Linked DNA regions of Homo sapiens. The protein of the gene in region 7 purifies or fractionates together with the protein of the main gene of each other region. This does not show direct contact. Each region holds a gene or a part of one and is shown on either strand. Other genes may lie near its edges.

Region 1 (3,500 bases), on a different chromosome or scaffold from region 7:
TTTTATTTATTAGACTCTGATCCCTTTAGGGGTTTAGCCCTTATTGCGAGCCCAGGGATTCTAATTTGGCTAAGCCCTAGCTGTGAAGACTTTTCTTACTAATTTGCCCTTGGTGAATTTTAGCTCTTGTAATACCACCTTTAAAAAACAAAAAACAAAAACTGCAGTAGAACATGCAGTTCAGAGAGTCCTGGATAACCTGAAAAGAGTCTTCTTTGAATGTTGGCTTATTGAATGGAAGGACTCCAATAGGGCCTGTCTTGATTTGTTTTCAAAGTTTAGATTTGTAAAGAGCCTCAGCAAATTAAAACATGGTTTTAATTGTCCTATAACATGCTAAAATATGGTAATGATTGTCCTATAACATATAACAGGTCTTTGCATTTCAAATTCATTGGGTACCTGTGAAGTATAAAATATAATCCCTGTTCATAAGTAACTCATAGTCTAGTGGTAGGGGGTTTGAGATGGGCATGAAGATGTATTAGTATAAGGTGGAAGCTATTGCCACAATAGATGAGTTCATCCTTGAATATTCATTTATTTGACTGGAAGGGAATGGTGAGTTATTTTCACACGGCTCCCGTAAGATATAGTGACCCAAAAGGTCAGTCTAGACTAATAGATTATGCTTCCTTTCAGAAGAATTTATTCGGTTAGGTCAAGCAAGAACATATAGAAAGAGATATCTTTATTCTTTTCCAAATATGTGATGTGGAGTACTTTCATCTTTATACTCAGCAGCTGGAATTCATCTTTTTGTAAGCAGTGTTATTTATTATAATGTTTATATGAATATAATTTATCAAAAAATGGAGAGCTCCACAATTCAAAATTTAAGAAATGTCTCACCTCAGATTCACAGAGTAATTGCCTTAGACAAAAGCTCTACACTCATACATTTTATATACCTCTTTTATATCCTCTCATTCCTAATAATGACAGATTAATAAGAACTAATAGCCATCCTGGTTTTCAGTATGAAACAATGTGATTTCATGTGAAGAAGAATAGAATAGTAAGAGTTAGGACCAAAATTACTTAGTTCTTTGGGCATGTGAGAGAATAGGAAAGAGCTACCCAGAATTTTCCAGAGCTCACTTGATAATGTCAAGAGCTGCAGCTGGCAGTCACTGATTCTGAAAATAGGCACACATCATGTTAATCAAAAAACTAAATAAAAGGATATTGGGATAAGGCACTAAAATAAAGTTCCTTTTGCCCTTTCTTTATAGCTGGGTTTTGCTGATCAATTCTGCATTTTTTGGCAATTCTACCTCTTTACAGGGAGAACCACCAGTATTATTTTCTCTTTAAGTAACTGAAAAAATATTTCCTATCTTTATTGAGCTGTCTCATTAAAGTAACAGACTAGCTGGATCACTGGGGATATGACTTTGGGATATATGTTTTAAAATAGGCACAGAGGCTGGGTGCGGTGGCTCACTCCTGTAATCCCAACACTTTGGGAGGCCGAGGTGGGTAGATCATCTGAGGTCAGGAGTTTGAGACCAGCCTGGCCAACATGGTGAAACCTTGTCTCTACTAAAAACACAAAAATTAGCCTGATGTGGTGGCAGGCGCCTGTAATCCCAGCTACTCAGGAGGCTGAGGCAGGAGAATTGCTTGAACCTGGGAGGCGAAGGTTGCAGTGAGCCAAGATCACGCCACTGCACTCCAGCCCTAGTGACAGAGCGAGAATCCATCTCAAAAAACAAACAAAAAGGCACAGAACCTCTCCTTGAGTTTATACAAATTAGGCATGTAATCAGTAAATATGGTAAAATATGGTAAAATGTAATCAGTAAATATGGTAAAATGGTAGAAGAGCAGGCCCAAGGCTAAATTCTAAACTACTCATGCAAATATTATAATAATACTAGAGAGTTGTAGAATGTACTGATTAAACTAGTGTTGCAGTAGAAGAAAGGAAGATAAACTATTTGAACAACAACTTGGAGGCAGAAAACTGGGGATTCGGCTTTGGAATTTACTTTATTGGTAATTATTACTTCTCTAGCTTGTCGCTCACTTCTCTGAGCTTGTCACACCTACTGGAATAAGCAGAAATTGTTATTCTTTGCCTAGGTTAACAAAATACACATCTCCAGATAGTAAGTTAGTTGCATGATGGCATCTTCTAATTCAGAGGTCTGATTTGTAGCATATTGGTAAGGAGGCACATTCATATTTCTGGGTGGTAGGGAGCCCACTTTCATCCATTCATCTGCATTCCTGTTCAAACTAGCAACTGTGTCTGCTAACATTAGGTTCCCAGAAAAAAGATGTAAGTAAACCCCAGTTCCACTGAGCTCCTGTGAAGGTACCACCTCCATAGAACTTGGTTGAAAATAATGAGCATAGTTACCTTTTTTTTTTTTTTTTTTTTTAACTTTTATCTTTTGGATGGCATTGAGAGTAACCTTCTGTTTTTTTGGCCTCAAGTTCCATATTGAATTTTTTAAAATTGCATTTTGAGCAATAACATTTCCCTGGTTGCTTAACCAGTTATACAAGTTGAGACTTCTGTCTCTATGCCTATCTTATAATAGCTTCTCTGGGAGAACAGATGAAAAATAAGCCAGTTAGATATTTTATGAGTATTGAAATCCTTTCCATTCAGAAATGTAAATAAAACAACCAGCATGAGCAATCAGCTTATGTCAGATTCCATGGGTTTGTATTACATAGGGAAATTACAGTGCAACCTGAAACATGCTTCTTAATGAATTCATAGTGCTGTCACAGTTGAATGTAAACCCTTGAGCTTTTCTTTTGTGAAGGGTTTCAGAAATCACCCTTTATAAACTACCTAGGGGAGGGAAGAGAACTAAGATGATACTAACAAATGCTATCACTGGTTTTGTGGCTGCCTCCCTTACAGCACCAAATTTTGCCAGTTAAGTAAAGCAGAAACCTAGAATATGGCACACGTTTTGGCTTATTCAGTGTACACACACACACAAACACACAAACACACACACACTCAGTGCCACACTGGGTCAGACCCATAGTTCAATACTCTGTTTCTGAAAGTGGCACCAGGGAACTGCTTTGGAAGAATAAGATTGCCCTTATGGTTTTTATCCTCAGAAGTTAGGGAAGTTTGGTTAAGAAGTATGACAAAAGCCCCATAAGTAGCGATTTTTACCTTTAGCAAATGCAGGAAAATAGACACCTAACTAGAGATCATGAAGTTAGAATTTGTCTCCTTCTTTGGCTGCTACTTCAGCCCCTGGTAGTAAATTAGAATAAAGTTCCTCATTTATTAGTGAGCTGGTTTTGCAGTCTCTAAAGCTCTTTTGCAGCTCTTCTATTCACTATGGCCTCAGATACGATAAATCTGCTAGCTGCAAAAATTCAATATACCAAGTAGAATATGTAGGACCAGTCAAGTTTTAAGTTTGGGAGTGAGGAAAAGCAGCATGTATTTTCTATTTTAAATTATTTTCTTTTCACATTCTAATTTCTTAAGGGTTTGGCTTGATTTATGCCAGGTT
Region 2 (3,500 bases), on a different chromosome or scaffold from region 7:
CTTTCTCTCTAGATCATGGCTGTTAGAAGTCCCCTCCACAAAAACTTGCCAAGGAGTCATTTCCTGGTTTTTGCACTGCTGCCCTTCCCCGTCTCCTTAATCTCTTTTTAAGTAGGCAATTAACTTGTGCGTGCATGTGTCAATTATGCCTATAAAGACTGCTATTCTCTACAGGGCAAAAACCTCTGCCCTCCTGCCTCTGGAGGGGCCAAACTCAACTACACTGTGCTCATCGGAGAGACCCCTTGTGCTGTCACCGTATCTGAGACCCAGCTTCTCTGCGAGCCTCCCAACCTCACCGGGCAGCACAAGGTCATGGTGAGTGAGCCCTGCGTCTGTAATGCCTCCTTCCCGCCTCGTGGTGCATGTGTGATCTGTCCTAAGGAAAGGCTCTCTTCTGTCTCGTTGCCTGACTCACCCCCTCCATATCTCCTCATCTCTGGGTCCTACATCAAATTGGGTATAAGCTGAGAACACAAGAAAAGAAAGGCAGATGCCGAGGCAGGAAATTGCTTTTTATCTAGAGCTGCACTGTGTGGTTGTGGTCTGTCATGTCCTTCCTCGCACTGTAAGGATCTGCTGGCATGCCCGGGCTCTACACCTGTGTGCATCCATGTGCGTCTGTATGTGTACAATGCACAGGTTCACGTGGGCGGGATGGTGTTCTCGCCTGGCTCGGTGAGTGTCATCTCAGACAGCTTGCTGACCCTGCCAGCCATCGTCAGCATCGCGGCCGGCGGCAGCCTCCTCCTCATCATCGTCATCATCGTCCTCATTGCCTACAAGCGCAAGTCTCGAGAAAATGACCTCACTCTCAAGCGGCTGCAAATGCAGATGGACAATCTGGAGTCCCGTGTGGCCTTGGAGTGCAAGGAAGGTTAGTGGAAGCACACCCTCATTTGCTGGGTCCCTCTTTCTCCACCTGCCTTATTGCCCTTCTCCCTGCAGACAACTCCTATCTTTACTCCCATCGCTGCCAGCCATGCCTCTGCATTCCACTTTCACCCCTGTTTTCCCAGAACTTCTTTTGCTTATAGGGTCAGAGATGTCCAATGAAGAATGCCCACTGCATGAGGACCCAGGTCCAATTGCATTGTTCTAGTCCCTTCTTTGCCCTGACCCATCCCACAATCTGGCAAACACTTTCTCCCTCTCAGGGCCTCAATGTCCCCACAGTCAGAGTCCCCAGGCTCCACAGCCCCAGACTCTAGATCCCCCATGGGAGTGTCCAGCTCTTGTTTTTCTGCACACTGTCTTCGCAGCACGTGGGAGCAGCGGCAGCAAAGGCAGACAAGCACCTGCCTCATCTCCCCCAGGGTTTGTTTTCCATCAGTGCTGCAGGCTGAGCGCTCTGAAGGCCGCCACTTGCTGGTGTCCTTGGCTGTGGACGTGTGTGGGAGTGCAGATTGTGTTTTCTCCCATGTCCCACGCAACCACAGCCTCGAGGTGACGAGTGTACCTGGCGTCCTCTCAGGCTGAGGACCTGGCAGGCTCTCTGGGTAAACAGCTCAATTAGGAATGAAAACATTTCTCCTTTTGCTGCAAATGTCAAGATCAGAAACAAGCCCTCTGCTGGATGACAGGGAAGAGCTGGGCTGGGAAATAGGACATGTGGAGCCAAGGTTCCTCCTGGCAACAGGGCTGGTGAGTTTGGCAGAGGAAGGAGCCAGGAAGACAGGTGTGCCACCACCAAGGTGAGGCTTCTGAAGCCCTTGCCTTCCCAAACTCGGCTCTCAGCTGAGCGTCTCATGACCAGACCTCCCCTAGGCTTTTGCATCTTGATTTATTACCTTGATTAGAAAAGGGCAGCACTTTGCCTGTTCTGGTCTTTGCTGGACCCCCTCAGCCATGGTCTCTCACCTGCCTCCAGCATCTCCGTGATCTTTACTAAACGGCCCAATCATGATACTTTTTTTTCCTTGTTGAAACTACACTTGTAATATGTAAAGAGAAAATTTGAAATTATAGATAAGTATAGAGGAGAAAATAACATAAAAATCACCCATTTCCCCACCACCTAAAAACAGCTGGGAGTAGCCCCGCCCTCTGGAGACACACTCCCGTAATCCTCAGAGTCTCTACAAAAGGTCCTCCCCTCGTCCTTTGCAAACTTCTTCTCCCTCTTTCTCCTCCCCCGACTGGGGCTTCCCCACGAGCCTCTCCGTCTGCTTATTCTCATAGCTTTTGCTGAGCTCCAGACGGATATCAATGAGTTGACCAGTGACCTGGACCGCTCAGGAATCCCTTACCTGGACTATCGTACCTACGCTATGCGAGTCCTGTTCCCGGGCATCGAGGACCACCCCGTCCTGCGGGAGCTGGAGGTAATGCCTGCCTCCTGGGCCCAGCCACCCAGCAGGGATGCAGGCCCAGGGTATCCTAGGAAATCCAGATGAGACTCAGCAGTACTGAGTAAGGTTAGCAGGGAAGAGGGGTCAGTAGTTTGTAACAGCATCTCAGCAACAGAGCTATCAGGAAGGTTACGGCTGAGGGGGCACCCAGGCTCCTTGGGATGGTTCCAGGGTAAAGCTCATTGTTTGTCATTTTTTAATTAATGACTGAACTAATTAACTAAGATCCTGCCTCATTCTAAAATGGATTTAAGATGGCTTAAAGAAAGACACAGGATTCTATGAGGTTTGTTTGTTCATTTGTTGGTTTGTTTTACTAAAGATAATAAATCAGGCAGAGGAGATTAAGGGGAGACTAGTAAACTGAAGAAGTTTGAGGGGGCATCTCCTATTCTATCCTTGGGAAAATCAGGCAGCCTCCCCTCTGAGAGCTCCGCATGGAGCCCAGCCTCCCCGGCCCAGTGCAAGGTCAGAGCAGACTGTCGACCTTAGAGCCAGCTGTTCCTACATCATCACGGGTGAGTGGAATGGGGTGGGGTTGGTTATAGGCCTCAAACATAGGGTCCTACAGCTAGTGTCATCGCCAGCAGGCCCTCAGTGAGACCCTCAGGTAGGAGGCCCGATGCCTGTCCTCTGAGGGCGTCGCCTCCACCACACCCCACCCCAGGTACAAGGAAACGGGCAGCAGCACGTGGAGAAGGCCCTGAAGCTCTTTGCCCAGCTCATCAACAACAAGGTGTTCCTGCTGACCTTCATCCGCACCCTGGAGCTGCAGCGCAGTTTCTCCATGCGCGACCGGGGCAACGTGGCTTCGCTCATCATGACCGGCCTGCAGGGCCGCCTGGAATATGCCACTGATGTCCTCAAGCAGCTGCTCTCTGACCTCATCGATAAGAACCTGGAGAACAAGAACCACCCCAAGCTGCTACTCCGGAGGTCTGGCCCGCAGCAGTGGGTGGAGAGGGTGGCAGGAGTCTGAACCTGGACAGAGCACCTCATTATAGCAGGCCCCACAAGCAGCATGAGAAGGCCCACTCCCCAGAAGGGGCACCCATTCAGAGCAGCCTGTGTCCTCACGTCTCTGCAGGGCAGAATCTGACTTTCCCTCAGCCCAGGGAGACTACAGAGTCTGAAGTCACCCAGGTGTGA
Region 3 (3,500 bases), on a different chromosome or scaffold from region 7:
TAAAAGAATTCTAGAAGGAAGAAGTCCAATACATATATATAAACTCTATTATGACACGTTTACTTTGTAAGTATTGGCTTTTCCATTTTTATTATTTTAGTGGTTGTGTTATGGTTCTCATTTATAGAAGCTGTTGTTGCCAGATACTAATTGAGGTAGGATTCATAAAGCACTTTTTGTAATCCTTCTTCTTTGTGGATAGCTTGACAATTTGTTCAAAAAAATAAACTCATAGTGGTGGTATGCAACTTTGTTAAAAATAAAACTGTAAATCAAAAAGTGAATTTCATTGTATGTAAATTTAAAAGTATGTTAGAAAACATCAATATGGCAGGAGAACAAGTTTGACTTTTTTCCGCAACTAGTGTCTACTACCACCTTTCTGGATACTTTAAAAAGTTGTCAGCTTTTAAAATTGTTGGTATAAAACATTTGGGAAGTTTTTAATTGGTATTTGTGCTTCAAAATTTAAGACTTTTCTAAGTATTCAGAAATATTCAAAGGAAGAGATGAATTTTGGAAAACTTGTTTGCCTTTATGTGCTTAATCTGACTTTAAGTTGAAATTTGAACAGTGAATAATAATTTTGTTTACATAAAGTTTTTTGACTTCTATATTAGGAAAAAAACTAGCTTGAGGCCAAGTGCAGTGGCTCTTGCCTGTATAATCAGCACTTTGGGAGGCTGAGTCCCGACTGCTTGAGCTCAGGAGTTTGAGACCAGCCTGGGCAACATGCTGAAACATCATCTATACAAAAAAAGTACAAAAATTAACTGGGAATGGTAGCATGTACCTGTAGTACCTTACAGCTACTCATGAGGCTGAGGTGGGAGGATCACCTGAGCCTGGGGAGGTCAAAGCTACAGTGAGCTGTGTTAGGGTCACTGCATTCCAGCCTGGGCAACAGAGTGATACTCCCTCAAAAAAAACAACAAAACAGACTGGGCACACTGGCTCACGCCTGTAATCCCAGCACTTTAGGAGGCTGAGGCAGGTGAATCATTTGAGGTGAGGAGTTCAAGACCAGCCCGGCCAACATAATGAAACCCTGTCTCTACTAAAAACACAAAAATTAGCCAGGTGGTAGTGGTGCATGCCTGTAATCCGAGCTACACGGGAGGCTGACGCAAGAGAATTGCTTGAGCCTAGGAGGCAGAGGTTGCTGGTGGGGAGGTTGCCAGTGAGCCAAGATGGCGCCACTGCACTTCAGTCTGGGTGACAGCCCGAGACCCTGTCTTAAAAAAAAAAAAAGGGCCAGGTGCGGTGGCTCACGCCTGTAATCCCAACACTTAGGGAGGCCAAGGAGGGCGGATTACCTGAGGTCAGGAGTTTGAGACCAGCCTGACCAACATGGTGAAACCCTGTCTCTACTAAAAATACAAAAATTAGCCGGGTGTGGTGGCGGGCACCTGTAATCCCAGCTACTCAGGAGGCTGAGGCAGGAGAATCGCTTGAACCCAGGAGGCAGAGGTTGCAGTGAGCCGAGATGGTGCCATTGCACTCCAGCCTGGGTAACAAGAGCGAGACTCCCTCTCAAAAGAAAAAAAAACAACCAGAAACCCCGAAAAAGAGGTGGAGGGGATGTATCCTTTTTTGTTCATGTCAAAGGAGTAAGCTGGGTTGATTACTTCAGATTTTGTGTTAGCCATACTTTAAGATTTTGTAAGTTATTTTGCTGTGAAGAGTACCTTTTATTTATGATATTAAAGGCTTTAACTTAAATTATCCTTCAAAACTTTGGAGGCAACAAAGATGTCTACCATGGTTTCTTGGATCAGGTATTAGTCACTTGTGGAAGTGGTCACATAGTTTTGTCTTAGAGAAAGTTTTGATTATAAAGAGAAGGCATAGGCAGGGCATGGTGGCTCACAACTATAATCCCAGAACTTTGGGAGGCCGAGGCGGGTGGATCACCTGAGGTCAGGAGTTCGAGATCAGCCTGGCCAACATGGCGAAACCCTGTCTCTACTAAAAATACAAAAATTAGCCTGGCATGGTTGTAGGCGCGTGTAATCCCAGCTACTCGGGGAGACTAAGGCAGGAGAATCACTTGAACCCAGGAGGCGGAGGTTGCAGTGAGTTGTGATTACACCACTGCACTCCAGCATGGGCAACAGTGCAAGACTCCATCTCTAAAAAAAAAAGAGAGAAGGCATAAAACTAAAGGAAGAAAGGAAGAAGAGAAAAGGAAATATTTAGTTTTTTTTTTTTTTTTGTGATGGAGTTTCACTCTTGTGCGATCATGGCTCACGGCAACCTCTGGCCTCACGGGTTCAAGCGATTCTCCTGCCTCTGCCTCCTGAGTAGCTGGGATTACAGGCATGCGCCACCACGCCTGGCTAATTTTGTATTTTTAGTAGAGACGGGGTTTCTCCATGTGGGCCAGGCTGGTCTCGAACTCCCGACCTCATCTGCCCACCTCGGCGGCCTCCCAAAGTGCTGGGATTACAGGCGTAAACCACCGCGCTTGGCCAGAAATATGTAGATTTTAAAGTGAATGAAAATAAGAATCTTTAAATTATCAACCAAAATTTGTAAGTTAAGTCACTAAAAATGAAATTAGAGGATCTATTGTAATTTTGATGCAATTTTTTTGAAGATACTTTCCAAATAGTATTTTTTCCCCTCTGGTTCATTTTAAGAGCTGTATGTTGATCATGACCTTGGGATGACTGTTTATTATTTCTAAGTTTTCCTGTGTGTGACATTTTCCTTTTCACTTTTGATCACATTTGTTTGCCTGAAAATTCTTCTTGGCCCCTGTCGTTGTATCCTCAATTTTCTTCATAGTTTCTCTTTGCCTTTGGTGCCCTTTTTCTCCTCCTCATCCCACCCAATCACTTGGTATATTCTTTGTTTTCTTCTTATTTAATATGCTTGGATAGTATTCTCTGGAAGTATTAACATTGCAAGGATGAGTAAATTAGGTTTCTTTTATTGAGTGTTGCCCTTACCACTTTCCTGTTTCTATTGCCTTCTCAAAAATCTGGCCTTTGTGTAGAATTCTTAGGCAAAAGATGATAGTAATGGAAGTGAAAAGTGTGGAGCAGGACTGGGGTTGGCAGATCATCAAAAGTTTGACTTCATTGTTCTGAAAGTTTGTGTGTCTTACAGCTGTGTGGTAATCTCTTTCAGAAGACAAACTAAGTTGAGTCTTTATAGCCATTCTCTTTCCAATGCTTTTCAGAGGTTATATGATTTGTCATATCACAAAGGATTTTTCAGAAAAATCAGCTAATTACACCTTTTTTTGCAATATGACACTAAATTTGAGACAGAATAATCTTTGCTTTAGTTCTCCCTATGTTATGTATTATAAATACATGTATCTTACAATCTACTATAAAACCATAAACTGGCTGGGCGTGGTGGCTCACACCTGTAATCCCAGCACTCTGGGAGGCTGAGGTGGGCGGATCACCCGAGGTCAGGAGGTTGAGACCAGCCTGGGCAACATGGTGAAACCCTGTCTCCAGCAAAAAATACAAAAGTTAGCTGGG
Region 4 (3,500 bases), on a different chromosome or scaffold from region 7:
GCGGAGGGTGGTGGGGTGGAGGTCCCCCTCCTTCTTTCCTTCCTTCCTTCCTTCCTTCCCCAGTCCTTTGTTCCAAACCAGGCATGGATGGAGCCAGAGGTCCACTGACCTGTTCCACTCTGAGCATTTCAGCCCCAAAATGTCACTGGCCATGGAGCAGATGAGAGCACATTCTCTACTATTACAGAGCTGGGTTGAGAATTATGCTCATAATTTTACCCATAAAAGAGAGAGAGGGAGAGATAACTATGCTGTGCTCCAGAAAGTGATTTAATCTCTTGAGCCCATAACTTCCTCAACCAAAAATATGGACCATCTTGCGCTCTGGACATTGAGTGATGATGTACCAGGCCTGCTCAGTCAGAGTGAAAACCTGAGTCCTGCCCTGCAGCCCCCTCACACATGCAGACTCTGGGGGATCAAGACATGAGGGCCACCTTGACTTTCTGAGCCAACATTTCTTCTCCTGGACACTTGCCCACCTGCAAGCTTTCTGACTCTGCTCCCTATCTTGCCTGCTATGCCAGGACCTATGCCTGGCCCCCAACGACACTCCTCCCCGCCCCCACCACACACACCCACACAGCAAGGGCTCTGCAGTAAATCAGCCTGTTGAGCTGGCTGGAGTGAGCTACCCTGTGCTCTCACTCCCAGGGTTCTACCCCAGACCAGCTTCCCTATCTGCCCTCTTGTGTACAGAGAGCTCTAATCCCCCCACCAACTCCCCCACAGAATGAAAAGTGTATCAAAGGCCCAGCTTCCCCACTGGGCTTCTTTTGCTTTGAGCCCAAAGCCAGGCATCCAACAATCCAAGCAAAATCACACTTCCTGGGCATGTTCTATAGGTCCAGGACCTTTCTGACATCAACTCCAACACTGAGGCCACTGATAGAGTCCCTGTTGTCCATCACATGTGGCCCAAGGTACCTTTGCACAGCCTACCCTTTGCCTGTCATTTTGTTTAAAGAGCCCAGCCTGGGATGGGGGTTGACACATGATTAAGCCCTTCATTCTGATCTGATGCATTGGGCCACATTAATGGCTCTGGGTACTTTGTGCCCTTCGACCTTAGACGTCAGGCTTGTACTGCTCTTCTGGGCAGAACTTCAGGGAAGTTGAAGGCCAAATAGCCACACAAGATGTCCCAGCTTTATCCCAGAGGAGTTCTGAGTAGATAGAGGCCACAGTTAGAGCTGTGAGTTAGGGTACCCACTTGGGAGCCTGGTTGAGGGGGCTAGAGACAGGGACTATGGGGCTGGTGTTGCCCTGGGGCAGCAGAGCTCTAATACCAAAGGCCTGGAGTAGAGAGGTAGCCTCCAAGGGACTAAGGAATGGGCAGAGGCGAGGAAGTGCAGAGTGAGTATGGACCATAGGCATAGATAGATTATTAAAACCCTCAACTGAAGGGGGCAGAAGAGGCAGGGGCAAGCTGCTAGGTCAGTAATGAGACCTTGAGAAGCCTCAGGAGGCTTCGTGGGGTGAGTTGGAGGGCATTATTCCCCTTTGGTCTAACCAGCCTCACCTCATACCCACCTGCCAGTCCAGGGTCCATGCCCCTTCCTGGCCTGCCTTCTCACAGGGCTACTGAGTGACAGGGCTGGGCCTTAGGCACGTAGCCTCTCGGCCTGCCTGCCCTGCTTATGGCAGGTTTATGATGTTTTTCTCCCTCCTGAGTGGTGTTTGGCTTTTGGTTTCTATGGCGAAGCAGGAATTTCCTAATGGCCTGTTTCCCATCTGGGCTGGGCAGACTCAGTGATGACTCTGCCGGCAGCAGCAGCAGGAGGAAAGACACACCCCTCAGAGCCTCCATTCCACCTACCCCAGAGCCGACGGACGCCTGACCCCACACCCCACCAGAGGCTGTAGATGCCCAGAGGATGCGTGGATAGGCTTCTAGCTGGTCAATGTGTGAGGCCTGGCTTGCAGTGCTATAAGCTGGGCCTCTTTGAGCTGAGCTTCTGTAGGCCACGAAGAGGGTGGAAGATTAGGGAAGACACAGGGCTTCTCCTGCAGCCTCTCCAGGAACCAGACTAGAGAGGGATTGGGCAGCCGATGGGGACAGAAGCATATAGCCCTACCCCAGGAGGATGGCAGCTAGAGTTGTGGCTCATTGCCACAACAGTCACCATTGTGGTACAGGGGAAAGCACTGGAGTGGTGTTCTTCTACCTGCAGGGCACAGCCCAGAGCCCAGCCCCTCTTGATCCTGGCTCCCAGGCATGGTGGGCGTGGTAGGAGACATATCTGACCATCACAATTTCTGCCACAGGCCTGAGGGTAGGAGCTGGCCCAGTGCCCCTGATGACAGCAAGGCTCAGGCACACAGGATCCACATCGATCCTGAGATCCAGGTATGTACAGACACTGCCTGGCCTGGCCTGGCTCAGAGTGAGCCCAGGGCAGAGGGGCCAGCATGCAGGTTCACCTGCACTGAATGTCCTCACTGGGGCTCTCAGATACCCAAGACAGAGACTGAAGCAGAAGTTTTCTCTGGACCACATCCATACCCCATCCCATGTTCCTCAGATGATGAGCACCTGGTGTGGGCTCTGTCTCTACTCCGGGCAATCCTGGATTCTGGACCAAGGTGCCTATGATGTCCAGGATCTGGGCTAGGCCTTGGTTTGCGGCTATCACACAGCCAGCTGGAGTTCACTCTGGTGCTCAGTGATGCCAGACCAGAAAGAAGTCACTGTGCTTGCAGCGGGGGAGATTGGTGGCAGTCTCAGGCTGTGGAGTGACCTCAGGCTATGGGACACTCCTCTGAGTGCCCTATCCAAGCCTGAAGTTCTCTCCTGGCCATCCTGTGGTGCTTCTAGCAGAACTTAGGCTGCAGGCCTGTCTGCCCAGTCACCTTTCTGTGTGTGATAGAAGTCATATCTCTGGTCCTGTCCTCAAGAAGAGTGAGGGGGTCAGGCTATTCTAGGGCCTTGTTTTGCCATGGCATAAGGAGTAGCCAAGTGGGGATGACTGAGGTATCCAGAGCCATCTCTGGGCCACAGAGTTTGGGCAAGGAGACTGGGATGGTCTGTGATGGAGCCAGAACCATGGGACCCAGCATGTGGGACCATTGCCTCCTGGGCCTGCCTTTGTCCACCCTCTCAACATGAAAGAAAAGGGGCCAAGGCAGGGAGAGGCTTCACTGAACCAGAGGGAAGGATGTGCCCCAGCTTCTCCCTCACTATCTACCCCAATCCCATCTTGCTCTATTCCCTACCCTGCCTGGCTGGCATCCCTGGAGCCAGATGCTTACCACCTTCCAGGCAGTGCCCATTCTGGCAGGGGAAAGGCACTTAGAAGTTCTGGGCTAGGGGAAGCCAGGGGCCAAAGGAGCCCAGAGTAGTCACATGACTCAGACAAGGAGTCAAGGAGTGCTTCCTGGAGGAAGGGGTATTGAAGCCAAGACCTGAAGGGCTAGGAATGGTAAGGCAGGCAAAGGGGTATAGGGAGAGGAAGTGTGGCCCAGAGGTGAGGTCTTGCACCACAAGTTCAGAGAAAAGA
Region 5 (3,500 bases), on a different chromosome or scaffold from region 7:
AGGGTTATGGTGAGGATTAAATGAAACAATACCCATCGGCTGTGCGTGGTGGCTCACGCCTGTAATCCCAGCATTTTGGGAGGCTGAGGTGAGAGGATGGCTTGAGCCCAGGAGTTCGAGGCCAGCCTGGGCAACATAGTGAGGCCCCATCTCCAGAAAAAAATTCTAAAAATTAGCTGTGTTTGGTGGTGCATGCCTGTATTCCCAGCTACACAGAAGGCTGAGGCGGGAGGATTGCTTGAACCCAGGAGATGGAGGCTGCCGTGAGCTATGATGGCCCTAGTGCACTTCAGCCTGGGTGACAGAGAAAGACCCTGTCTCAAAAAAAGAGAAAAGAATGCCCCATAAAATGCCATACCATTAGCTTTTCATAATGATATGAAGCAGGGGCTGAGCTCCGGTGACATGAAACAAGTCACAGTTTGCAGTGTCAAAATGACACTGTGTCCCCCGAGAACCTGTGTTTTCCAGGCAGCACCAGGAGAAAAACATCTCATAGCAGGGATTTAGAAGGTGAGCAGTCCTGCCAGTACCACTCGTATGCTCTGTCCAGTCGGGGACAGGGGGACAGAGGAGTCCGTTTCTTTTTTGATATGGCATCAGGCCACCAAGGCGAGGCCTTTCGAGGAGAAGAGCCTCAGCTTTCGAGGCAACTCAGCAGCCTTTCCTGAGCCCCTCCAGAGAGTGGGTAGGGTATGAGAAAAACCACAACAATCCTGGTTCTCAGATAATGCCTGCTTCCTCCAGCAGCGGGGGTGCTATTGTCTTGATTTCCACAGATACTCTCGGGCCATGTGGGGTGTGGCACAGCAAAGAGGATCCTCCCACTCATAAAAAGCTAAGTGTGAGATGGCAGCTTTGGGGCTCCAACCTCAGTTCGCTGCTGCCTGAACAGAAACCGGAGTTCACAGGAAGCAGAACCTCCAGCCCCACACCCTGGCCTTCCCCAGGACACAGAGAGGAATGTCCTCACCAGTGGGTAGCCCAAGCCTCAGCCCTCTTAGGATCAGAGAATTAACTGTGGGACACCAGGCTTAGGTCCCCCAATCCCACCCGCTTATGTGAAAACTCACCCACCCTCCCAAGTCAATGTCCCTGGAAAGGTAGGGCAGCAGCACAGAAGACCAGTCTCAGAAACAGGAAGGCGGGGTCAAGGTCAAGCCAGGCTGTGCCCTGGCCTGGTCTTAAGCAATCTCAGGCCAAGGAATGAAGGATGGTACTATTTTTAAACCTCATGTGACCTGCACGCAAACCCAGCCAGGTAAGGATGGAGCCCTGTTGTCAGGGGCTCTTTGATCATTCCAGGTGAGTAGGAAGTAGTTATGACAATGCCCCTCTCAACAATTCTTTGCCTTTTTTTTTTTTTTTTTGAGACGGAGTCTCGCTCTGTCGCCCAGGCTGGAGTGCAGTGGCGCGATCTCAGCTCACTGCAAGCTCCGCCTCCCGAGTTCACGTCATTCTCCTGCCTCAGCCTCCCGAGTAGCTGGGACTACAGGCACCCACCACCACGCCCGGCTAATTTTTTGTATTTTTAGTAGAGATGGGGTTTCACCTTGTTAGCCAGGATGGTCTCGATCTCCTGACCTCGTGATCCGCCCGCCTCAGCTTCCCAAAGTGCTGGGATTACATGCATGAGCCACTGTGCCCAGCCGATTCTTTGCCTTTTAATAACATGACTTTCCACAAGAAAAAGAAAAACGTGTGTGTGTGTGTGTATATCTATCTATCTATCTACACACACACATATACACACATGCACTGAATACTGACTATGTGCCGATGGCCCCACGGGGGAGGGTATTGTCATGCCCATTTCACCAGAGGAAGAAAATGAGACCAAAAGCTTCGGCCACTTGGTTAGGATCACCAGATACTAATGGGGAGCTGAGACTGAAACCCAGGTTGGCAAGTCTTTGTCAAGACCCCATCTTGGGAGGACAAGGGTCCAGGGAAGATACCTCTCTCTCCCCCAGGCTTGAGTTTCACTCTGAAGTCACAGAAGCATGGCAGAGATAAGCAAGCTAAGCCCTGGGTGAGGAAGTGACTTTCTCAAAGTAACATAGCAAATCAACGACCAAGTCAAGATGGTGGGAGTCCCCAACAAGCTGCCTCCTACACATCTTCAGGTCTCGACTTAAATGTCACTTCTTCAGGGAAGCCCTCCTTGACCACATAACGCATGGCCAGAGGCAGGCACATGGTGGGTGAGCTTACCTTCACTGTCGGTGAGCACTTCCATGCGCCCGCTGAACATGGCCTTCAGCATGGTGTCCTGCTTGGTCAGCGTCTGCATGGTGGTATAGTAGAGGGCTCCACCCACATTCAGCTTCACGTATTTGGAGCTGGGGCTCGTGCCCTTGAAGGAAGTGGTGCGGGTAGCAGCCGCTGGCACCGCTGAGCTCACCACACTTTCTCCTGACATCTCTTCCTGCCAGTGGAGAGGATACAGGGTCATGACATCAGGCCTGGTTGACTGCTTTCAGCCTGTGGATTCAATCTGGCCTCCAGATGTGTTTTGCTTGGGCCACGCATACACAGCATTTAAAAGTTTGCTTCCAATGTGGACAACTAAGGAGAGCTCACAGAAAAATCTGGACTTCTGGCTTCTCCTAAAATCAGAGGCCAACTGGGCTAGCAGGGGAACAACTGGTCAGAGCTGGGGTATTGGATGACCCCTAGAGAGGGCCATGCATCCCCTAGTTTGTCCCAAAACCCACCCAAAAAGCCTCATACACTGACCCTGCCTGTCGACCCTGCAGGCACAAGGGTGCCCCTAACTCTTGTGTTATAAGCACTTCCTTTCTGCCTAGCACCTGTATACATGAACACCCTGGCTGCACCCTAAAACAGCCTAAAGCACTGCCCAGGTCTCTTTACATTTCCTTATTGCCATGTACCACTCAATAGCTAGCTAAGTGTCATTTTTCAGCTGCATCACAGATGAAATAAGCTTTATGAAGTTGAATGGGATTCCAGCTGGCACTCCTATCACTTCCTGTAGGGAGAAGGTGTTTCTGAGGACTAAACAACAGACATGGAAACTTTTGGAACCAAGTTATTGCAAAATTAGACCTCCTAGACTAGTGCTGCCCAAAAGAGCAAGATCCCACTACCATCTCCCTGATAGCATGGCTGACTCTCTGTACATCTCAAAGAAATGGATACAGTGGCTGATTTACGCAGGCCTGGAAAGTGAGATTGGTATCCGGCACATGTGTACTCAGAGCAAACATGTCTGAAATGAACAGGTAAAACTGTAGAGGTGGAGATGTGCAAGGGTGGGCAGAATCTTTGCTGAATCTGGGGTAGCCCCCACGGCTGGCCCTACCATTCCCATTGAACATCAACAGTTTTTCACAGCACATCACCCTCAGACAAGGCCACTCTGTGCCCTTGCGACAAGACAAAAACAGGACCATTCAGTCATCATGTCCGGACACAGACAAAAACATAAACATTATCCAAAATACAAAAATGACCAAAGATCCCCTATCCTGGCT
Region 6 (4,296 bases), on a different chromosome or scaffold from region 7:
CCCTCACCACTCTTCCTTTCCCTGTGTCCCGAACCCGTGTTTCTAAGTCCTGACTGCTATTATTCTGGTGTATTAAATACATACTATTTACTATTTAATACATCTTTTGTTGTTGTTTGTTTTCTCAAATTTTTTGTGGAGACAGGGTCTCCCTATGTTGCACAGGATGGTCTTGGACTCCTGGCCTCGAGCGATCTTCCCACCTAAGCTCCCAAAGTCCTAGGATTACAGGCATGAGCAACCATGCCCAGCCTATTTAATACATCTTATTTAATATATAGTATAATACGTAAATATGTACTATTTAATATTTAACACATATTAAATACAAATGGTCCCCAACTTACAATAGTTCAACTTAAGATTTTTCAACTTTATGATGGTGTGAAAGTGATAGACATTGAATAGAAACTGTACAATATTCAATAAATGATATCTAACACTGTCTTATAAAATATGCTTTGTGTTACATGATTGTGCCGTTATAAGCTATTATAAGTGTTCCAAGTACGTTTAAGGTCCACTAGTCTAAGCTATGATGTTTGGTAGGTTAGGTGTTTTTTTGTTTTCTGTTTTGAGACGGAGTGTCACTCTTGTTGCCCAGGCTGGAGTGCAATGGCGTGATCTCAGCTCACCGCAACCTCCACCTCCCGGGTTCAAGCGATTCTCCTGCCTCAACCTCCTGAGTAGCTGGGATTACAGGCATGCACCACCACGCCCAGCTAATTTTTGTATTTGTAGTAGAGACAGGATTTCTCCATGTTGGCCAGGCTGGTCTAAAACTCTCCGCCTCAGGTGACTCACCCGCCTCGGCCTCCCAAAGTGCTGGGATTACAGGTGTGAGCCATCATGCCCGGCCTAAGTGTATTTTCAAAGTGCATTTTTGACTTACAATATTTTCCATTTATGATGGGTTTATCGAGAAGTAACCCCACTGTAAATCGAGGCGCATCTCCAATCTAGAAGGCAGCTACTCCTTAATAACCCCTTTCCCATAAAACATGAATCTAAATCTACAAACCTTGTTATATAATAAAGCAAGATGTACTCTGTTATGATCAGTGTGCACGTTAGAGCAAGCACTACTTTTCCGATCTTAATTATTCCAGAGATGCTTGACCAATTTACTGGGTACGTGGGCAGTTTTCTGATTGCTGTTTCCACACTCTGCTTTCCCACAGAGAGATTTCCGCAGTTAGGGGCTGCTATTTCAACGCAGGGAGATAAAAAGAAAAAAACACTTGCTCTTCTACCCCGCTAAAAACACTCATCCTAGGGAGCACGCCAGCATTTGCAGCGTTCGGGGCAGGGCCACTCGGCCTGCGGCCGTTGCACTGGCTGGAAGCTGGCAGGCGATCACGGTTGATTGGCTCGGGTGCGGTCCAAGGGCAGCAACGCCTTCGGCGGGCCGCCTAGGGTGATTGGCTGCTGCAGCCCACCCCCTAGCCGGTTTGGTGGGCGGCGAAGCCTGGATTGGTGGAGCTAAGAGCTGGCTCAGTTTCAGCGCTGGCTCTTCGTGCATGGCAGAGATGGCGACTGCGACTCGGCTGCTGGGGTGGCGTGTGGCGAGCTGGAGGCTGCGGCCGCCGCTTGCCGGCTTCGTTTCCCAGCGGGCCCACTCGCTTTTGCCCGTGGACGATGCAATCAATGGGCTAAGCGAGGAGCAGAGGCAGGTGAGGAGACTGACCCCCTTCCTGGCCCCAAGGCCTCCTTCCTGCCTGGTCCCCAAGGCCTCCTTCCTGCCTGGTCCCCATCGGCCCAGCGCCCACCCAGCCTTGGCTTTTGCCCGTGGGCCGTTGGGAGCGCCAGCGCGGGGGCGGGACGCGGGGCCTCCGACCTCGGGTCCAGTCCTCTGACCTCGGCCTCACGTCTGTGGAGTGAAGATTTGAGACCGTGGGACAGTACTGCTGGAAGTAGAGAGGAGGAGTCGAGGCTGGGAGAGCTCCTGAGAGACTGATGGTGTTTTGGTGGAGGATTGGCCAGGCTACCTACCGCTTGTGGCACAAGGGCCCTCAATCTGTATGTAGTTCACTTACACCTGAACAGGCTGAGGTATGCTTCTCACACCTGGGTGGTCATCGTAATCACCAGGGAGTCTTTTTTGTATAAACAGTTTGGGGGTTTTAAAAAGCCACAGTGAGCTCTCCTGTCGCTCTTCAGCCCATTGGGTCAAAACACAAAAGTTGAACAAGTACTTGAAAGAAGTAGTTGGAGGCCAGGCGCCGTGGCTCACACCTGTAATCCTAGCACTTTGGGAGGCCGAGGTGGGAGGATTGTTTGAGCTCAGGGGTTTGAGATCAGCCTAAGCAACATAGCCAGACCCCCATCTCATAAAAAATAGAAAAGAAGACGAAGTAGTATTTACAAATGGAGCAGAACCAGAGTCCTTCCTGAGGTTTCACTTGGAGGCTGGATGGAGTTGGCGGAGGTATGAGCCTCCCAGCAACTCCGTAGTTTATGTTTATAGCCAGCGAGCGCTCAGAGCTTCCGTGAACCACCTCAAGTGGAAAGGGTTCAATCCCTATTCTCAAGCTTTCCTGGCAAGAGGAGTTTCTTTTCTTTTTTCTTTTTTTTTTTTTTTTGAGACGGAGTTTCACTCTTGTTGCCCAGGCTGGAGTGTAATGGCGCGATCTCCGCTCACCACAACGTCCGCCTCCCGGGTTCAAGTGATTCTCCTGCCTCAGCCTCCCAGGTAGCTGGGATTACAGGCATGCACCACCACGCCCGGCTAATTTTGTGTTTTTAGTAGAGACGGAGTTTCTCCATGTTGGTCAGGCTGGTCTCAAACTCCCAACCTCAGGTGATCCTCCTGCCTCGGCCTCCCAAAGTGCTGGGATTACAGGCATGAGCCACCATGCCCAGCCGCCAAGAGGCGTTTCTAATCTCTTTGGGTAATCAGACCCTTTTAGCCAAAGGTTCGGGGGCTTAAAAGAGCCTGACAACTATTGAGATCTGGCAGCTGCCTGGAATGCAGCTGGAGCACAGAGGGTGGGAGGTGGGAAGGTGCTGGGGAAGCTAGGAGAGTCAGCTGGGGTCAGCTCCTGCAGGGCCTAGTAGGCCTGGGTGAGAAGCTTGTGTTTTATTCTAAGTACAGTGGAAACCAATGGAATGATTTTTATGTAAAGTGTGACGTTTTAAAAATTACCATCAAGCTGTCTAGGCTGAAGACCTTAAGAAAGAGGGGTGAAGATCATCTCTGAGGAGGCATAAACTACTGAGGCCTCTCAGTTTCAGTCTGATGCTGTTTGGGGAAGTTACTTGTGGCCTTTTCTCTTGAATGTGTCTGGGTAGTGGAGATGCTGTCTGCAGTGGCATCTGTTTACCTCTCTCCTATTAGCTTCGTCAGACCATGGCTAAGTTCCTTCAGGAGCACCTGGCCCCCAAGGCCCAGGAGATCGATCGCAGCAATGAGTTCAAGAACCTGCGAGTGAGTTGGGAGGTCCGGGCAGTCGGGGGCAGTCAGGGAGTGGGGCTGAGCTGCACTGCTGCCTGGAAGAGCTCACACAGTTTTCTGGTAAATGAAGCCTCTCTAAGAATGCAGCCCCTCTCTCTGAAGTGTTTGGGTCTCATTGTTCCAGCCACATGTGACTGGCTGCCTTCCCCTCAACACTTATTCCACTCTGCTCCATTCTGTTGGCAGGAATTTTGGAAGCAGCTGGGGAACCTGGGCGTATTGGGCATCACAGCCCCTGGTGAGTATAGTGTCTTTCCCTAAAAAGAACTTTTCTTATGTGCCCTTTAAGACAGTTCCCAAAAGAAGCAGGAAGGGAAGGGAAAGATTGTGCTTAAAGAAACCCAGAACTGCATCTTTTGGACCTGTGAAAGCACCCATTGATTGTCAGCCCAGAGAACAGGACACTCTTCTATTTTATTAGACAGTGATGTAGAGAAGGCAGAGGGATTAATTAGGTCATTGTGGCTCACTTGGATCAGGATCAGTCCAACTCTTGAACTCTGCATACTTAATAGGCTCACCCAGGTGATTTGGGAAGTTTAGAAAACTCTGGATCAAGTGGTTGTCTTCATAGTACCTCAGTCTTACTGCCTCCCCTAATCCCTATAAGCTTTGTCCTACCAGTGGCCTCTCGGCAGGAACACTCTGGGCAGGTGTGTCCCTGCAGGGACTGCCTGTGTCCTCTTCTGCTTAAACCTTGGAGCTCATTTGGGAGCAGATAGCGGGGGGAGTAGGGTAGGGGCTGGGCAGGGGAGAGAGATGTCTATCTGGGCTTCCAGGTGAGGTGGCCAGATGATGTGTTTAATAGGCTGTCCGGAGGGAGAAGGCAGGGAGCTAGCAGG
Region 7 (4,020 bases):
GGTTCCAGGAGCATCAACCCCTTCCTATGTGGATGGAGCCTGGTGGTGGCATCAGCATCCCACCCTTGCTGATCCCACGGTAGCCAACCTTCTCCTTGTTTGGTTTCTTTAATTAATTGATTAATTAATTTATTTTTGAGACAGTCACTTTTTCACCCAGGCTGGAGTGCAGTGGTGTTGTCTTGGCTCACTGCAACCTCTGCCTCCCCGGTTCAAGTGATTATCTTGCCTCAGCCTCCCCAGTCGTTGGATTACTCGTGCCCACCACCACACCTGGCTATCCTTGTTTGGTTTCCTAGCTTGTCCTTGACCTGGGTTCCTGTGTCGGTTTCCTGTTGCTGCTGCAGAAAATTATCACAAACATGGCAGCAGGAGAGAACACACTGACCCCTTCCACTTCTGGGGACAGAAATTGGATCCAGTTCTCCCTGTGCTGAAATCAAGGCATCTGCAGGGCTGCGTTCCCTCTGGAGACTCAGCAAATCAGTTCTCTTGACTTCTCCAGCCCTTAGAGGCCACCTGCATTCTGTGACTAGTGGCCTTCCTCCACCTTCAAAGCCCACAGTGGCTGATAGCGTCTCCCTCCCACTACACTGCTCTAATCCCCACTCCCCTCTTCCTCCACCTCTCACGCGGACCCTTGTGATTACACTGAGCCCAGCAGGACAGTCCAGGCTGTCTCCCCATCTCAAGGTCAACTCATCAACAACCTGAGCTCCACCTTCCCCTTCAGTCCCCTGCCCTATAACATAAATAGTCACAGGCTCCAGGGTTTACAATGTAGCCATCATTGGCGACAGTTATTCTTCCCACCACAGCACCCATTTCCCCTGTATTCAATCTCCCTTGACCCCAAATACAGTTGGGGCCTGGGTGATGGGACCCTGATGGACACCCCCACCAGAAGCTCTGGGATTCAGGAGGTGGGACAGTGAGAAGCCCAGACAGAAAGCCTCTGACCTGTGACCATGATCACCAGGGGGTTGCTGGGTGCCGACCACCCAGTGAGGGAGTGTGGGCGTGAACCCCGACATCTGTAGGTCCCTGCATGTGCTGGGGTCACAGGGCCCATGATGAAGCTCTCCTGGAATATTCTGCCGTGGAAGATGGGAACGTGGCTTCTGTCTTCTTTGTACAGCATGAAATTGTTAAACCCACGACGATAGTGACACTGAAGAGCCACGTGTCCTCCTCGAGGCACCACAGTGCTGGGCCGGGCAGACAGGAAGGGTTTGTCCTGACCACCTGGGGGAGAAGGAGGCACTGCCTTAGAGAGGAGGATGTGGAGCCACCCCTCCCTCCCTGTGCTCAGAAGATTCTCCCATTTCCGCTTTCTAAGGCTCCTACCACACCTGGGTGCCCAGGGCTACAGGAAGGACCCACCCCACATAGACATGGCGTCTCCCTACAACAAGTGTCAGCTGAGAACTTTGAGCAAGTGCTGAATAAGTGACTCTTACTAGATTTTAATACTGCAAAATTACTCACATAAAACAACACAAAGTAGACACGGCATGGAGGGCATGTCCTATGTGAATGGAATATCAGCCAATTCATGAACTGAGCCCCCTCAGAGGATTTGGAATGTCAGGGCCATGGCTGTGGTTTCCCCCCTCTTCTGGTAGAAAGACCGCAGCCACACTGCAGCCCCTACCGTCACGGAAACGCTGGAGGGTGTCAGTTATACCTTTGTCCTCAGAGGACCTGCTGTTCCTAGCACTGCTTCCCTCTCTTTCTCTGCTGCTGACACCACTTCCTCCCTGCACACCCCAGCTTGGAGCACCCCAGTCTCACCCCAGTCTTCACAGAGCTTGACTCAGGAAAGGGAAAGAAAGGCCAGGGAGGGCGAGGTCAGAAATGTGGGCCGAGTATCCAAGGGTCCCCTCTTCCTAGTTTATGAGAGACTCCCCGACAGGACTTCCCTCCTGTTTCAGAAAAATCCTCTTATGTGGGGAGATGACACCCTAAGGTTTGGGGACGGACTCACCCATGAGTGGCCAGGCCCCCTGCAGCAAGAAGAACCCTGGAAAGAAAGATCATGATAGACGATCCAACTGCAGGCAAACCAGGGCACCCTGCTGCCCCCACTGCACTGTGTGTCTTGGCAGCCAGGCCCTTGCTGGGCTGAAGGTAAACTTAGCCTCCCTGCTACCTGCTGCCAAGAACAGGGCTCTCAGCTGTGGAGAGACCCAGGCTCCAGGCCCAGATCAACACTTCCTGGCCCAGATCTCCACTCCAGGCCCATATCTCCACTCCAGGCCCCTATCTCCACTCCAGGCCCATATCTCCACTCCAGGCCCATATCTCCACATCAGACCCATATCTCCACTCCAGGCCCAGATCTCCCCTCTAGGCCCATATCTCCACTCCAGGCCCATATCTCCACTCCAGGCCCATATCTCCACATCAGACCCATATCTCCACTCCAGGCCCATATCTCCACTCCAGGCCCAGATCTCCACCTGCAGGCCCATATCTCCACTCCAGGCCCATATCTCCACTCCAGGCCCGTATCTCCACTCCAGGCCCATATCTCCACACCCAGGCCCATATCTCCCCTCCAGGCCCATATCTCCACTCCAGGCCCATATTTACACCTCCAGGCCCATATCTCCACACCCAGGCCCATATCTCCACTCCAGGCCCATATCTCCACTCCAGGCCCATATCTTTACCTCTAGGCCGAGATCTCCATCCCCACTCTCCCTCCCTCTATTCCCTTCCAGGACTCACCAACGCACGCCATGCTGACGACCGTGAGCGACATGGTGCTGCCGGTGCAGACAGGAGGCCGCGCCCCAGCTCAGCTCAGCAGCGCACAGGATGTTATTTGGCGCCCTGCCCATGCAGTTTACATGTTGACCACATCATGGGAGGGTGACGTACGCAGGCTCTTTCTACCTTGCATGAGGCCCAGTGGGTGCTCGCTCAAGAGCGGAACATGGCTTCCTGGAAATTGTTGTGACTACAATTGCCACCTTGCATCCTTCACTATGACCAGACTCAAAAGACGTCTCAGATCCAACCTCTCACACATGAGGTGATTGAATTCTGTGCTTACATTAAAGACTTTTGATGTATTTTTGTTTTTATCTGAGATTCAAACTTTTCTTCATGTGTAATGTGCAAAATATCTAAGAGGTATTATTAACATTATCAGAGTAATTGTGACAAAAAGCCATTCTAATTTTCCTGATGAGTTTCTAGTACTAAACCTGAGGCACGAGAATTGCTTGAACCTGGGAGGCGGAGGCTGCAGTGAGCTGAGCTCAAGCCACTGAACTCCAGCTTGGGTGACAGAGGAAGAGTCTGTCTCAAGAAAGAAAAAAAAAAGCAAACTAAATAACCTATAATAACAAATCAGAGAACTCAGGTTACCAAATTTTAAGGGGTTCTATAAGTTTATATGAAATGCAGCATCCTCATGAGAGGGGATACAGAGAACCACTGGGCAGAAAACTGTGTCTAAAATACATCTGTGGATACACAGTCCCTTTATAGTTGACAAAGGCTGCCATGTAGTTTAAGGTGGAATAGAATATTTTCTCAACAAATAACACAGGACCATAGGGTTACACGTAGGAAAAAATAAATCTAAACTTATCCTCACACTATAAAGACACTTCTTATTTTTTATCTTGTTGTTGTAAACTTTTTATGCTTTATTTTTAAGATTGACAAATAAAAATTATATACTGTGGTCCTTCACTATTCCTGGGTGATTGGTTCCAGGATCCCCATTCAGATACCAAAATCTGCAGATGCTCAAGCCCCTTGCATGAAATGGCATAGCGAAGCTGGGCACCGTGGCTCACGCCTGTAATCCCAGCACTTTGGGAGGCTGAGTTGGGTAGATCACGAGGTCAGGAGTTCAAGACCAGCTGGTCCAACATTCTGAAACCCCGTCTCTACTAAAAATACACACACAAAAAAATTTATCTGTGCATGGTGGCACGTGCCTGTAATCCTAGGGGAGGCTACTGGGGAGGCTGAGGGAAGACAATCGCTTGAACCTGGGAG

Evidence for each region.
Region 1: the proteins of KIR3DL2 (region 7) and ST7L purify together in Homo sapiens (affinity purification with mass spectrometry; 2 studies listed by BioGRID and IntAct, with this or other methods). This does not show direct contact.
Region 2: the proteins of KIR3DL2 (region 7) and PLXNA2 purify together in Homo sapiens (affinity purification with mass spectrometry; 2 studies listed by BioGRID and IntAct, with this or other methods). This does not show direct contact.
Region 3: the proteins of KIR3DL2 (region 7) and TRIM13 purify together in Homo sapiens (affinity purification with mass spectrometry; 2 studies listed by BioGRID and IntAct, with this or other methods). This does not show direct contact.
Region 4: the proteins of KIR3DL2 (region 7) and PDLIM4 purify together in Homo sapiens (affinity purification with mass spectrometry; 2 studies listed by BioGRID and IntAct, with this or other methods). This does not show direct contact.
Region 5: the proteins of KIR3DL2 (region 7) and KCTD10 purify together in Homo sapiens (affinity purification with mass spectrometry; 2 studies listed by BioGRID and IntAct, with this or other methods). This does not show direct contact.
Region 6: the proteins of KIR3DL2 (region 7) and IVD purify together in Homo sapiens (affinity purification with mass spectrometry; 2 studies listed by BioGRID and IntAct, with this or other methods). This does not show direct contact.

What each region holds. Positions count from the first base shown.
Region 1 is NC_000001.11:112,528,642-112,532,141, reverse strand, and holds part of ST7L (suppressor of tumorigenicity 7 protein-like), read left to right. Parts: intron 1-1,976; exon of another isoform or gene 1,977-3,500.
Region 2 is NC_000001.11:208,041,885-208,045,384, reverse strand, and holds part of PLXNA2 (plexin-A2 precursor), read left to right. Parts: intron 1-174; coding exon 175-318; intron 319-642; coding exon 643-877; intron 878-2,181; coding exon 2,182-2,324; intron 2,325-3,018; coding exon 3,019-3,287; intron 3,288-3,500. UniProt on the Homo sapiens protein: Coreceptor for SEMA3A and SEMA6A. Necessary for signaling by SEMA6A and class 3 semaphorins and subsequent remodeling of the cytoskeleton. Plays a role in axon guidance, invasive growth and cell migration.
Region 3 is NC_000013.11:50,003,542-50,007,041, forward strand, and holds part of TRIM13 (E3 ubiquitin-protein ligase TRIM13), read left to right. Parts: intron 1-3,500. UniProt on the Homo sapiens protein: Endoplasmic reticulum (ER) membrane anchored E3 ligase involved in the retrotranslocation and turnover of membrane and secretory proteins from the ER through a set of processes named ER-associated degradation (ERAD).
Region 4 is NC_000005.10:132,264,196-132,267,695, forward strand, and holds part of PDLIM4 (PDZ and LIM domain protein 4), read left to right. Parts: intron 1-2,268; coding exon 2,269-2,350; intron 2,351-3,500.
Region 5 is NC_000012.12:109,467,301-109,470,800, forward strand, and holds part of KCTD10 (BTB/POZ domain-containing adapter for CUL3-mediated RhoA degradation protein 3), read right to left. Parts: intron 2,429-3,500; coding exon 2,215-2,428; intron 1-2,214. UniProt on the Homo sapiens protein: Substrate-specific adapter of a BCR (BTB-CUL3-RBX1) E3 ubiquitin-protein ligase complex. The BCR(BACURD3) E3 ubiquitin ligase complex mediates the ubiquitination of target proteins, leading to their degradation by the proteasome.
Region 6 is NC_000015.10:40,404,299-40,408,594, forward strand, and holds the start of IVD (isovaleryl-CoA dehydrogenase, mitochondrial isoform 1 precursor), read left to right. Parts: upstream 1-1,496; 5' UTR 1,497-1,520; coding exon of another isoform or gene 1,521-1,529; coding exon 1,530-1,673; exon of another isoform or gene 1,674-1,956; coding exon of another isoform or gene 1,957-2,052; intron 2,053-3,337; coding exon 3,338-3,427; coding exon of another isoform or gene 3,428-3,514; intron 3,515-3,640; coding exon 3,641-3,692; intron 3,693-4,296.
Region 7 is NC_000019.10:54,849,223-54,853,242, reverse strand, and holds the start of KIR3DL2 (killer cell immunoglobulin-like receptor 3DL2 isoform 1 precursor), read right to left. Parts: upstream 2,801-4,020; 5' UTR 2,768-2,800; coding exon 2,734-2,767; intron 2,024-2,733; coding exon 1,988-2,023; intron 1,246-1,987; coding exon 961-1,245; intron 1-960. UniProt on the Homo sapiens protein: Receptor on natural killer (NK) cells and T cells for MHC class I molecules. Upon binding of peptide-free HLA-F open conformer, negatively regulates NK and T cell effector functions. Acts as a receptor on astrocytes for HLA-F.